Linked DNA regions of Homo sapiens: region 1 is linked to region 2. A link means that fine-mapping ties the variant in region 2 to the expression of a gene that starts in the linked region. Tissue or cell type: whole blood. Region 2 holds a variant in brackets; the other region holds the start of a gene. All regions are shown on one strand. Distances are from middle to middle.

Region 1 (5,528 bases), 36 kb before region 2:
GTGTTGAGATGGAATAGAGTGATTATTCTCTGTAAGTTTTCCATCTTGCTAGGCTGCCCCTTTCCTGATGATGTGGCTACAGAGATCAAGCTTTTGTTTAATCTTTAAAAATCTGAGCCTTTCCAGATTCCTGCCTTCTTCTGCCCCAAGTCTGGAATATAGGAGACAAATAGAAAACCTAGAGAAATAATCATCATGTCTTTCACTGGGTCCTGAGGTCCCTGTTGGTGTGCCTTCTTCTCTACGCTTCAGAGTCTTCTTATGTTTGTGAAGAAGGGAAAAGTATGTCTACTTCATCTTTCTAGTTGTGGAATATCCACATAGGGAATACTGATTTCACAATATTTATTTGATTGCCCCTGGGGGTGACAGAAAGTTGATTTCCTGCCTGTCTCTCTCTCTCTTTCTCTCTCCCCCCCCCCCCCTTTCTTTCTCTCTTTTCTGAAACCATCAGAAACTCTTGCCCTAGTGTCTGGGCAGAGGCTAATGGCAGGACAGCCCCACTGTGGGAAGTGGGGCTGACTTGGTAATTGGGTTCATCTGGCATTGAGTTTCCCCTGGTGAGGGCAATATAAGGGATGTGAAATATAAGGAGCTCACTGTGTGAAAACCCACTTAGAGGCATTTCAATGACAGGTGCTAGGGATACTGTTCTTAGGGAGAATGATTTCAAAGGGCACCTAAGAGTTTTTTAGCCTAGTCCATGACTGCCTGAGAGTCCTTTGCCACTGGAGTTCTGGGAAGTGAGTAGAGAGGACCAAAGGGAGGATAGGACCTGGATCTTGTCCTCAGGAAAATTTCTGGCCGTTAGGAAAGATTGACATACCTCCTGAACACAGGTAGAGACATCAAATTAGAAGAGACAATTGACATAATAGATGCTGTTGTTTGGACAACAAACAACATGTGGGAGGCTGGGAAGAGAGGTGTGATTGGATTAGGAAAGTGATCAGAGAAGGTTTCCGGAAGTGCCTCTGTGGCAGGTTCACAAGATGAGAAGGCCAGGGAGGGGAGGGGAAGTGAAAACCATAAGGAGAGGGGCTGTTTGCTCGTAAGCACATCCACGCCATACTGCAGAGTTGGCATTCACAGCATAAATGCCATTGGGGGTTATCTCAGGGCCTGTGACATGCAGCAATTTGTAGTTTTGCTGAGATGCAGGCCTGAATCACCTCCACCCCAGTGCTGGTGTGCTGAAATGAGCCAATTAGGGAGTGATTCTGGCTGGAATACTAAGCATTCTCATCACAATGCAGTTTTGTTGGTCTTCTTTGTGCCTTACAAAGAAACTTACAAAGGAATAGAAACTTTGGGTCAGGTGCGGTGGCTCACGCCTGTAATCCCAGCACTTCGAGAGACTGAGGCGGGCAGATCACCTGAGGTTGGGAGACCGAGACCAGCCTGACCAATATGGAGAAACCCCATTTCTACTAGAAATACAAAATTAGCCGGGCGTGGTGTTGCATCCCAGCTACTCAGGAGGCTGAGGCAGGAGAATCCCTTGAACCCAGGAAGTGGAGGTTGCGATGAGCCGAGATCATGCTATTGCACTCCAGCCTGGGCAAGAAGAGTGAAACGCCATCTCAAAAAAAAAAAAAAAAAAAAAGAAAAAAAGGAATAGAACTTCATGTTAGCTAAAAAAGATTAAAGGACTTCCAAGTGGCATTGCCTTTAGTGAAATTGAAGACATCAAAGAAAATGATTATTCTTAACTAGAAAACAACCATATTGTATAAAACAGAGGGGAGGTTGAATTTGGCAATTGCTTAGTACAACAATTTTAGAGGCATATCATAACCTCTATACAGAAATAGAAAAGAAGGATGGGCCAACTGTTCATTCAAGTACTCCAGCTAGTGAAATACTTGTGTTTTTATGGAGGAAATTCTATACTATGGATATATTTGGGATTTGGGATTTGGGAAACTCTTGGGTCACATACTTTGGCAATGTCAAGGATCCATGAAATTCAAATGTCTTCCCCTACCTCCCCATCTCCAAAATTGTGAGCTAGGTTTGGTCTTCATAATTCGGGACCCAAGAGCCTAGCACAGTACCTGGGAGAGAGTCAGCCCTCAAGAGAAGTCTGTTAAACGAATGGATAAATGAATGAACAAGTAGATGGCTGGCTGGCTGGTTGGACGGATAGATGGACGAATGAATAAGGCGGGCATAGCTCTGAATGTGGAGTCAGAAGACCAGCCAAGGGAGTCCTCAAGGCTGGGGCCTGTGCTTTTTGGGGGCATTTTCATTCTCTGGGATTCACACAAAGAAAGGACTCACTAAATGTTTGCTAAAGGAATGACATCCTCAATTATCTGAACCTTGGTTTCCCCATTTGTGTAATGTGGATCATCACCATTCCCCTCCATGCAGACTAAGTGGATTAAATGAGCTTCTTGTGTGAGGAGCTCTGTTACACTGTAAAGTGCTGCACCAGTGTCAGCCATCGTGAATGGTGCAATGACCATAATTTCAAGGTCAAGAGTCAGGGTAGTGGGATGGTAAAGGGAAAAAGAAGTCAGTGTGTGCAAAGGAAGGTGAGCAGGGCAGCCCGGCTGGCACAGAGGAGCAGGAGAGCTGCCTGGGAGGGCACAGCAGGGGGCTGGCAGCCAGAGGCTGGTCCTGGATTCCCAGTGTGCTCCTCTCCTATGGCCCTGGCCAGCCATCAAACCTGTCTCCAGGAACTCTGGGAAGCCAGGCAGCAGCAGCCTCTTCTTAACCACATAAAAGCAGCTCAGCCAGGGTCCCTGAAGCAGCCCATCTGATGCTGGCATGGTTGTGAGATTTCTAACAGATGACACTGTCAATTAAAGGTCTCCCCTCTGTACCCCTACAATCCCAGGCCCCACCACTCCCTGGGGAACAGCAATTGAGACTGCGACAAACCTCCCACCTAAGATCTTTCTATGGATAATGTGCCCATGCTAATTACACATGTTCATTAGATAAAACTCAAATTACATGAGCAAGACTTGCAAGACTAGCACTTTGGGAGTTTTCAAGTCATTTACCTGGTGTCTGATTTTGCTGGGAGAAAATGATTTCTTGCTTCCAGGCAAACTGAACCCACAAATTAGGCCCATGGCTCCCTCTTGAGTCCTATAAAGTGGGAGCCCAGGATCACAGGCTGGTGAACTGCATCTCAGCTAAGGGTCAGCATCTTATCCCCACTTTCTGGCCTCCCCACCATGAGCCGCCAATTCACCTACAAGTCGGGAGCTGCTGCCAAGGGGGGCTTCAGCGGCTGCTCCGCTGTGCTCTCAGGGGGCAGCTCATCCTCCTACCGAGCAGGGGGCAAAGGGCTCAGTGGAGGCTTCAGCAGTCGGAGCCTTTACAGCCTGGGGGGTGCCCGGAGCATCTCTTTCAATGTGGCCAGTGGCAGTGGGTGGGCAGGAGGCTATGGATTTGGCCGGGGCCGGGCCAGTGGCTTTGCTGGCAGCATGTTTGGCAGTGTGGCCTTGGGGTCCGTGTGTCCGTCGTTGTGCCCGCCCGGGGGTATCCATCAGGTCACCATCAACAAGAGCCTCCTGGCACCCCTGAACGTGGAGCTGGACCCTGAAATCCAGAAAGTGCGTGCCCAGGAGCGGGAGCAGATCAAGGTGCTGAACAACAAGTTCGCCTCCTTCATTGACAAGGTGGGTCTTTCTGGAGAAAGCTGATCTTGGGCTCCCCTTTTAAGGACTCAGGAGGGAGCCACTGCCCTAATTTGTGGTTCAATTTGCCTGAGAGCAAGAAATCATTTTCTCCCAGCAAAATCAGACACCAGGTAAACAACTTGAAAGCTCCCCAGGTGCTGGGCCCATAAGGCTTGCTCATGCCGTAGAGCCCCTTCCTTCCCCCGCCTTCATTGTCCTTGGGGTGCTCCCTGTCTGAAGCAGACGAAGGCAGGACACCTCCCCAGGATGCAGACATAGCCCAGGGAGGAACTGGACAAAGCCTGGACATCAGAGGCAAGGGACCAGGGTTGGAGGGGTGAGAGGAGCCAGCAGCCTAGCCCAGGAAGGTGTCCAGGAAGCAATGAGAGCGGTCTCTGAGTTGAGAAGTAGCAGAGTGACAGCCTGTGAGACTTAGAAGCTAGGCGAAGGAGATGCCCTTGACAGCCTGGGGCATCTAGACTGCCATGCGACCCAGCTGTTCCTCCTGTGTCCCCTGAAAGCTCAGACTCAGTCCGTAACACACACAGCCTATGAGGCAAGGCAGCTGGAGGTCACGGTGCCCTAGAGCAGTGGTTCTCAAAGGTGGCCCTGGAACCAGCAGCAGCAACGTCACCTGGACGCTTGTTAGAATGCACACTCTCAGGCTCCACCCCAGAGCAACTGAATCAGAGACTCTGCAGCAGGGCCCAGCACCCTGCATTTTAACAAGCTCTCCAGGTGATGCTGATGTACACTCAGGTTTGAGAATCACTGAGGAACAAAGTGGTAGGAAGGTATTGGGAAGCAGAGACTTCCTAAGCTTAGAGGAGCAGGGGAAGCTCACCCGGAGCGACAGTGAGGTAGGGTGGTGAGGCATGAGTAGGAGTTTTCAGATGGAGGTGGGGAAAAGGCAATCTAGGGAGACAGCACGTGCAGCATGGTAGAACTTGTCTGGGGAATGGGAGACCTTCGGTTTACGACATCACTGTATGAGTAAAGAAGGAAGCCAGGAGGGCTGGGCACATTATGAAGAGTGTGATAAGGAATATGGACTTGACCCTGAGGGTGATGTGGAACCACCTGAGGGTTTTAAGCAAGGGAATGATATATTTGTAGGTTGCAACTTGAGAATGCTTGTTCTGCTGCTGGGACAATGCTGTGATTGAGATAGTAGAGATTCAGACATGAAAGCAACTTAGGAGGGCCGGAGACCCCAGATAAGCTGAACATCTGCCTCTGGCTGGGCTGGGAGAGCCCACGCACAAGGAGGGAGAGACTAGGCAGAGCACGGGCCACCAGACCCCGAGCAGAAGGCCTGACAGTGTGAAGGCTAGCACAGGCCAGCTTGTGTCTAAGGGGCTGCCTTGGAGAGGTGGCCTGGACTGAACATGGACATCGGTCCAGGCAGGTTTGGATAAGTGCAGAGGAGACAGGAGATCTAGATCTTGATAGTTTGAGAGGGAAATGAAGACATTGGTGCCCCTCCCAACCTTAAGGGCTGCCTCAGAGTGAGAACTTCAGTCAGATAAAGGACCCTAGGTAAGGAGTGGGGGTGTGAGTGGCATGGGTGGCAGTTTTTAAGGGCTGAGGCTCATTTTTAAAGCTAATGTAGCATAAGAAAACACAGTTCCTGTCCAGGAAGGGAATTCTCACATCCCCTCTCCACATTGCTTAAGTATGTGTGGCATGGGTTCCAGGTGCGGTTCCTGGAGCAGCAGAACCAGGTGCTGGAGACCAAGTGGGAGCTGCTACAGCAGCTGGACCTGAACAACTGCAAGAATAACCTGGAGCCCATCCTTGAGGGCTACATCAGCAACCTGCGGAAGCAGCTGGAGACGCTGTCTGGGGACAGGGTGAGGCTGGACTCGGAGCTGAGGAGCGTGCGCGAAG
Region 2 (6,294 bases):
TCTCTCAGTGGCCTCCTTCTTGGTCCCGTTTCGTTGGGTCATTGCCTGAAATGCAAAGACAACACTTACCCAGGATGTTTCCCCAAGGCCAGCTACAAGCCCCTCTGCCCCCATGCCTTTCTTGGGCCTTCACTACCAAGGGACTCTCTTCATCTTCTGATTGGGATTGTGTCCAGTCCTCTGCTTCTTCTGCAATAAATGATTAAATCTGTTTGGTTCTCAGTTGAATCTGTTGCCCAGGATGTCACCATCTGCAGTGCCTTAACTTTTCTTCATCTGATTCTTGCTTCACTCTGGGCTCATGTGGCTCTTCACTGGTTTTAGCCAGGTAGGCACTGGGTGAGGGCTGATCCTTGTAAACAGTTGAAATGTATTACTGAGGCCAGGGCCGGGCAGGCCCATTGCTTCACGTGCCCTGTGCCACCTATTCTGCACAATAGCCCTGCAAGACATCATTACCCCATGATAGATACAGATGTTAGAGCTTCCTCATGGCTTCCTGCTCTGGTTCTCAAAGCACCCATGGTTGAGCACACTCACTGTCTGTGTAGCGAGTGGTCTTCCCTTCATTCTCCCACTGTCTCACTCTCCACCACCCACCACTCACTCCCCAGTCCTGCTCCCACACAATGGCCCTGTCTTCCTCTTCTTTTAACCAACTTCCTTTTCACCCTAACATGTAAGGCCTGTGTGTATATATGCTTGTAGCCTCTCTATCTAAGGTGTATATGAAATAGTGCTCAATTAACAAATATTTAGTGAGCTAGGCATTGCTCAGGCACTGGGAATACCAGAATAAACAAAATAGGCACAGACACTGGCCCCATAGAGGGAGAGTGAAAATATGCACCTACCAAAGCAATATATAATATGAAGTCAAGCAGTGTTAACTACTATGAAGAAAAATTCAGTGGAGTAAGAAGCTGAGAGATTCAAGGATGCTCTTTTAGCTCTGCGTGTGTGTGTATGTGTATGTGTGTGTATGTTTGTGTGTGTATGTGTGTGTTTCTGCAAGAATGTTTGTTTCTCAGAGTCAGTTAGCACAGTTGATTTGAAAAAAACCCTTAATGCGAGACCATCTTTCAAGTGCAAACCTCGTTTGAGGATGGCATTCAGAGTGCCCGAGATCCTGTCTCCCCCGTGTCGTTTCCCACCTTATTCTCCAGCCTTTCCCCATGCAGGCCAGACTTTTCACACCTGAGGGCCTTTGCACATATCATTTTCTCAACCTCAGATGTCCATTACCCGTGATGGACAGCCTGCGCACCTGTGTGGCCTGGCTGAGACTCCACCACCCACATTTCTGTGGTGCCTGGTCCCTCCAGGTGGACCCATCCATCTTCAAGCATTACATGAGAAGGATCAATACAGCTGTGGCCCAACACCTCCCTACCCCACACCCCCATTCTACAGGCAGGCAAACCGAGTCCCAGATGGCTGAGTGACCTGTCCATGTTCACACCACTGGTGAGCAGCCGGGGCTGGACCAGTGGCTTGTACACTCACAGCCCTGTCCTGAGCCTGTGTTAAAGCCGGCACTCTATTTTTCTGGTGTCATATCAGCTGCTCACATGTCTGTCCCTCACTCCATGCCCTACATCCCCTTGTTCCAGGGTCCGGCTTGCAGTCAGCACTTTTACCATGGGAATGCATGCCTTAGTTTAGCCCACCTTCCCTGGGAAAAAGAGCTGGATATACACACAACATACCCATGTCTCAATTGTCTGGTATGCAAGTGATATGACATATTTGTGTTAATAAATTTGTGTCTTATATGCATTTGTGTGCAGGCAGTCACTCAAACTGGGACACTTTTGATCTAAATAAATACTAAGGTGGATCCTTGGACAACTGGCAAAGCCAGGACTGTCAGATAAATGGTCCCCTTGGGCCTAGCATAGTGGCAGAAGAGTCATATACCTAGCTTTGAATCCTAGCTCTTCTAATTGCCAGTAGTGGCCTAGTGCAAGATCCTGCCCTTGTAAAAGAAGATAAATACAAGCTGGCCATTATGAAGTGCTTTCTGTTGCCAGAAACTGTTCTCAGCACTCATTCTGGTAAGCACTTTATGGCTGGTAACTCAATTAATTCTCCCAACAATCTGACATGTATTATTTTTATAAGATGCGATTATTATAATGTCCATTTAACTTGTGAGGATATTGAAGCTCAGAGGAGTTAAGTAACTAACCAAATGTCACCTGGTTAGTAAATGGGAGGATCTGAATTCCAGTCTGATTCTGGAGTCTATGCTCCTGGCTTCGACACCTCCTTACCTTTCAAAGAACTCACCTTAGAGGAGATCAGAGAATAGGAAAAGAGATAAGGGGAGTAAAACAGTGCCTGGAACACAGTCTGACACCTGTAGATGCTCACTGTTATTACTAGTATTTTTAAAGCATACGTCTGTGTTTGCTGGCTGTGGGCTGGTTCATGTCTGAGAGGTGTGGACCAACAGCAGGACTTTGCCCAGAGACCTGGCCGAGATGGGCTAAGTGAAAGGTGGAGGGCACTGGGTCCATTCACTAAAATACATTCCTATCTGTTCACTGGCTGTTCATTTCCAAGCAGGGGAAAAACCCTCGGTGCCTCTATTTTGTGCACACACTGCCCTCTGCCATTGGTCCTGGATACTGCACTTTCTACCCCTGTGACTCTGGAGGAAAGACTTCCCTACAGCAGAGAGGGCGTGGGATGACCCTAGACAGGCTCTGCGCCCCTCGCGGAGCTGCCAGTGGGAGGGGATGCTGTTTCACTCCCTGGCATGCCCAGGCTGGCCCCAGCCTCTGTGTTGCCTGGGTCTGACTCCTGTCTCCTCTTCCTCTCCTCTCTGGCCTCTCCTCTTACAGGAAGGAGGAGGGGGCAGGGGCTGATGCTGCCTGCTGCCTGAACCTCCACACCTCTTATTAGAGAACCTGAGGCCTTCAGACAGCTTTTCCTGAAAATCTTGGTGCTGATCCAGAGGTCCTTGGAGTGAGGGCCCCCATGACTCAGCTGAGACCCCCTCTCCTAAGCCCTGCCTGCACAGTGTGCAAACCCCTCCCTCCTCTGAGAACTCTTTCTTTCTCAGGCAGTAGATGAGCCAGGCATGGAGGCACTGGCAAGGCACAGCCAGGGGGCTCCATAGGAAGAAAGGCCTGAGAGAGGAACACAATCTGGAAAGGCTTCCTGGAGGAGG[C/T]GGTAACAGGGATGTGAATTGTTGGAGACAGGGAGCTTGTTAAAGACTGCTTAGGTCCCATTTGGCAGCTGCTCTGGGGTTTGAGCCGCCCTTTGCCAGCTGTTTCCAATCTCCATCTCAGGGGCTCTGCCACTTCTGCCACCTATAGAGTGGCAACTACACAAAGGACAATTGTTCTGCACTGCCCCTCAGTTCTTACATTCACATTTAGCAAAGCTTCCAGGAGCACCAGAGATGTTGAGGGTCCCTCCTCTCCTGCAAACCAGCTGCCATTGGCTTGTCCATCCCTCCTCCCCGGTAAGTCGTCCACGCTGCATCCCCGTTTGGATGCAGGCCCCTCTTAGAGGGCTTATCCTCGAAATCCCTCCTTCTTGCTTCCAATTCGTCCATCTCCAGGAGAGATTCCAGATTCTTCTTCCTGGAACTCCAGATGCAGCTCAAGTTCTAGATTAAAGCTGCTCCGAGCTCAGGAACTGAACCATAGCGTGGTGGATATAGGACTGAAAGGGACCTTAGAAGTCCAGTGTGGAGGTACACACATTTTGCAGTCGGCCAGGTGTGGATCTGAATCCTTTTGTTGATTTGTTTCTTTTCCCAGTTATAACTGCAATGTGGGCAACTCAGTTTCTCTGCTCAATTTCTCTTTCCTCACTTGTAATGTGGGAAAAACAAGAGTATTTACCTGACAGGTTGGTGTGAGGATGAAATGAGTTAAAATGTGCAAAAAGCTTAGCACAGTGACTAGTGCAAAGCAAGCCTCGTCGAACCTGAGGCACACCTGCCAGGCTAGCTTCTGGCTCCGTTCCAGTCCCATTACATTCTCCTCCAGCCTCCCAGCCCACATCCATTTCCAGAAGGTTCTCTCTTCCTGGAAGGGCTGCTGGTTCCTCTGAGCCTTCTCCTTGGCCCCCTGTTAAAACATGCAGCCCCCACCCTTGCTCCACGCTGCCCCTGTTCCTCTTCCCTGAAATAGGAGCCACCAGGACCCAGGACCTGCTTTCACCGGTTCTCACTTCCAGACGGGTTTCCCCATGATGTGAGTCATTCTCCCCAACTCTTGGATCTGCAGACTCCTGGCTTATTTCATAACCTGCCTCCTGAACCCACAGCTGTGTGTCCAACCTGATAGCCCTGCATAAGACACCACTTGCCTCAGCGGGGGCCCATGACAATGGGAAGATGGAGACTTGGTCTCCTGGTGTCAACATCTCCTGCCTCCTTTTCTGTAGGAGAGGGGGATAGAACTTTCCAAAGGGGCTGGCTGTGGTCTTGGCTCCAGATGGAGGAGCTCACTCTCTGACCCCGAGGCTCAGGTGCCAGCGTCAAGCCTGCCCTAGGCCCCACGGACCCAAGCCTCTAATTCCATGGCAGGTCTGCATCGGTGGGGTGGTGCTGAGGGTCCCTCACCCCACAGCAGTGAGAGGTTCCCTGTATCCAGCAGGCCAACCATCCCTTCCACCCGCAGGGTGGGGCTGCATGGATGTGTCTCCCATGGAGCTCTGAAAGGCTCATTTCAGCCCCCTGCCCCAGCCTCGGGGTTCATCCTCCATTCTCTCTGTTTTTAGCCCTTCCCTCAGCAGCAACTTCCCCTCCTCATTGACCCAGCCTTCCCTAGCTCCTTTCTCTAAAGTCTCCACTTCTTCTATTTCTTCTTGATGTGCTACTTTTATGTTTCTTCCTCCCAATTTCCACATTGCCTATGGTGGTCCAGGCCCCTAGTGCTTCTGCCCTGCCTGGTATCTCTTCCCTTCTCCTGTCCCTTCTTAACACCTTTCCCCAGGGCCCAGCAGGCTCAGATATGATGTGGGCCCAGGGAGGGAAGCTGGTCATTCCTTCCACACTGGAGGCAGTTGCCACCCCAGGCCTGACCCACCACTCCAGCACTCCCCAGGGACGGTGCAGGGCTGGGCTTCTCCTTCCTGTTTGGATGGATTGTATGATGCTCTGATGATGGGAGATAGAGAGCATGTCATTAGTGATGATGTGGCTTAATTACAGCCCAATGCACAGCCTGCTTGTTTGCTTTGCAAATGGGCAGAGGAAGAGGTGGATCAAGCATCAAACTTCACAGTGAAGATCAAAAGATTAAGGCATTTCCCCCAGCCTCCCTGTTGTCTTTCAAAAATGAATCCTGTAATAAAGGGGGTTGGGGTGTCAGACAATATAAATTTCTTCCTGAAGTGGCTGGAGGGGAGGTGGAGGGGGTCTGAGGTAAGGAGATGGATTAAATAGTGCCCAGATGGGGGCCTAGTGGAATTTTAAAATGAACAAATGGAAGAAATGTGTCCTTCCCAGGGCAAGACAGTGCTTGTCTTCACATACCTATGTGCACTGGAGCTGAGAAAAGTTCCCTGTGATGACTAGGTAGGTGGTGGGTAGAGTCGTAAAGAGTTCAAAGAGCTTTTCTTTAAAAAAAAAAAAAAAAAGAGGAGAGAAAGAGAACTAAAGAGTGTTTGATCTACAGTAAGTGGCTAGGGGCCTGTTCCATCATAAAAACCTTAGGAGCCCGAGCAGGGAGAGAACCAAGAATGGAGGAGCTTGGAGAGACAATCCAGGAGGTGCTGAAGACAAAAGGATACTCAGGCTGGAACAATGAACAGTAGTCCGCGGATCCCCAAGCCAGAGAAAAGCTAGGCGGGGCAGAGTTCCTGGTGGACAAGCCCTTGGGGGTTCCAGTGATGAGGGAGCTGGGAGACCACCACTTTTCCCCAGGGATCAGAGAGGAAAGACCCTGGGAACTGGCAGACAGATCTCAGGCAGCCCTGGAGAAGGAGGCAAGTACTCGGGGAAGCCAGGAGGCTCCCATGACCCTTTGTGCAGGAGGACAGCTCTGACCAGAGGCTCCAACTCATCTGTGGAACGTGAGCCCATCCCCAAGACTTAGGCAAGCTACCAGGGCAGCCCTGGAGGGGCGTGCAGGTTGTGCTGAGCACTAAGTCTCAGTGCGGGGGAAGTAGAGGCTGAAATCCAGCCATGCACCCTGGGAAAGGGCTGCGTCTGCCCAGAGGAAGGGGTGCCTTTTTCTCATGATTGGCATAAAGGCACCATATGGCCCTGCAACCACTTGGTTAAACTGCTCTGATGTTTCTCTCTCCAGGTGGGAAGGGTGGAGCATG

The links. PIP is the estimated chance that this variant, and not a neighbour inherited with it, causes the effect.
Region 1: it holds the start of KRT73, and the variant in region 2 is fine-mapped to the expression of KRT73 in whole blood (INTERVAL, PIP 0.98).

Annotation. Positions count from the first base shown.
Region 1 is chr12:52,616,188-52,621,715 of GRCh38, reverse strand. It overlaps KRT73 (keratin 73), which reads left to right and starts at 3,157. Exons shown (of 9, transcript NM_175068.3): 1 at 3,157-3,638; 2 at 5,336-5,528. The coding sequence starts at 3,192.
Region 2 is chr12:52,579,506-52,585,799 of GRCh38, reverse strand. KRT72 (keratin 72) reads left to right here. Exons shown (of 9, transcript NM_080747.3): 9 at 1-211. Among named protein-coding and RNA genes, the nearest start is that of KRT74, 8.8 kb to the right of the region's middle. RefSeq lists a cis regulatory region at 677 and an enhancer at 593-762. The variant C/T (reference allele first, on the strand shown) is at 3,179.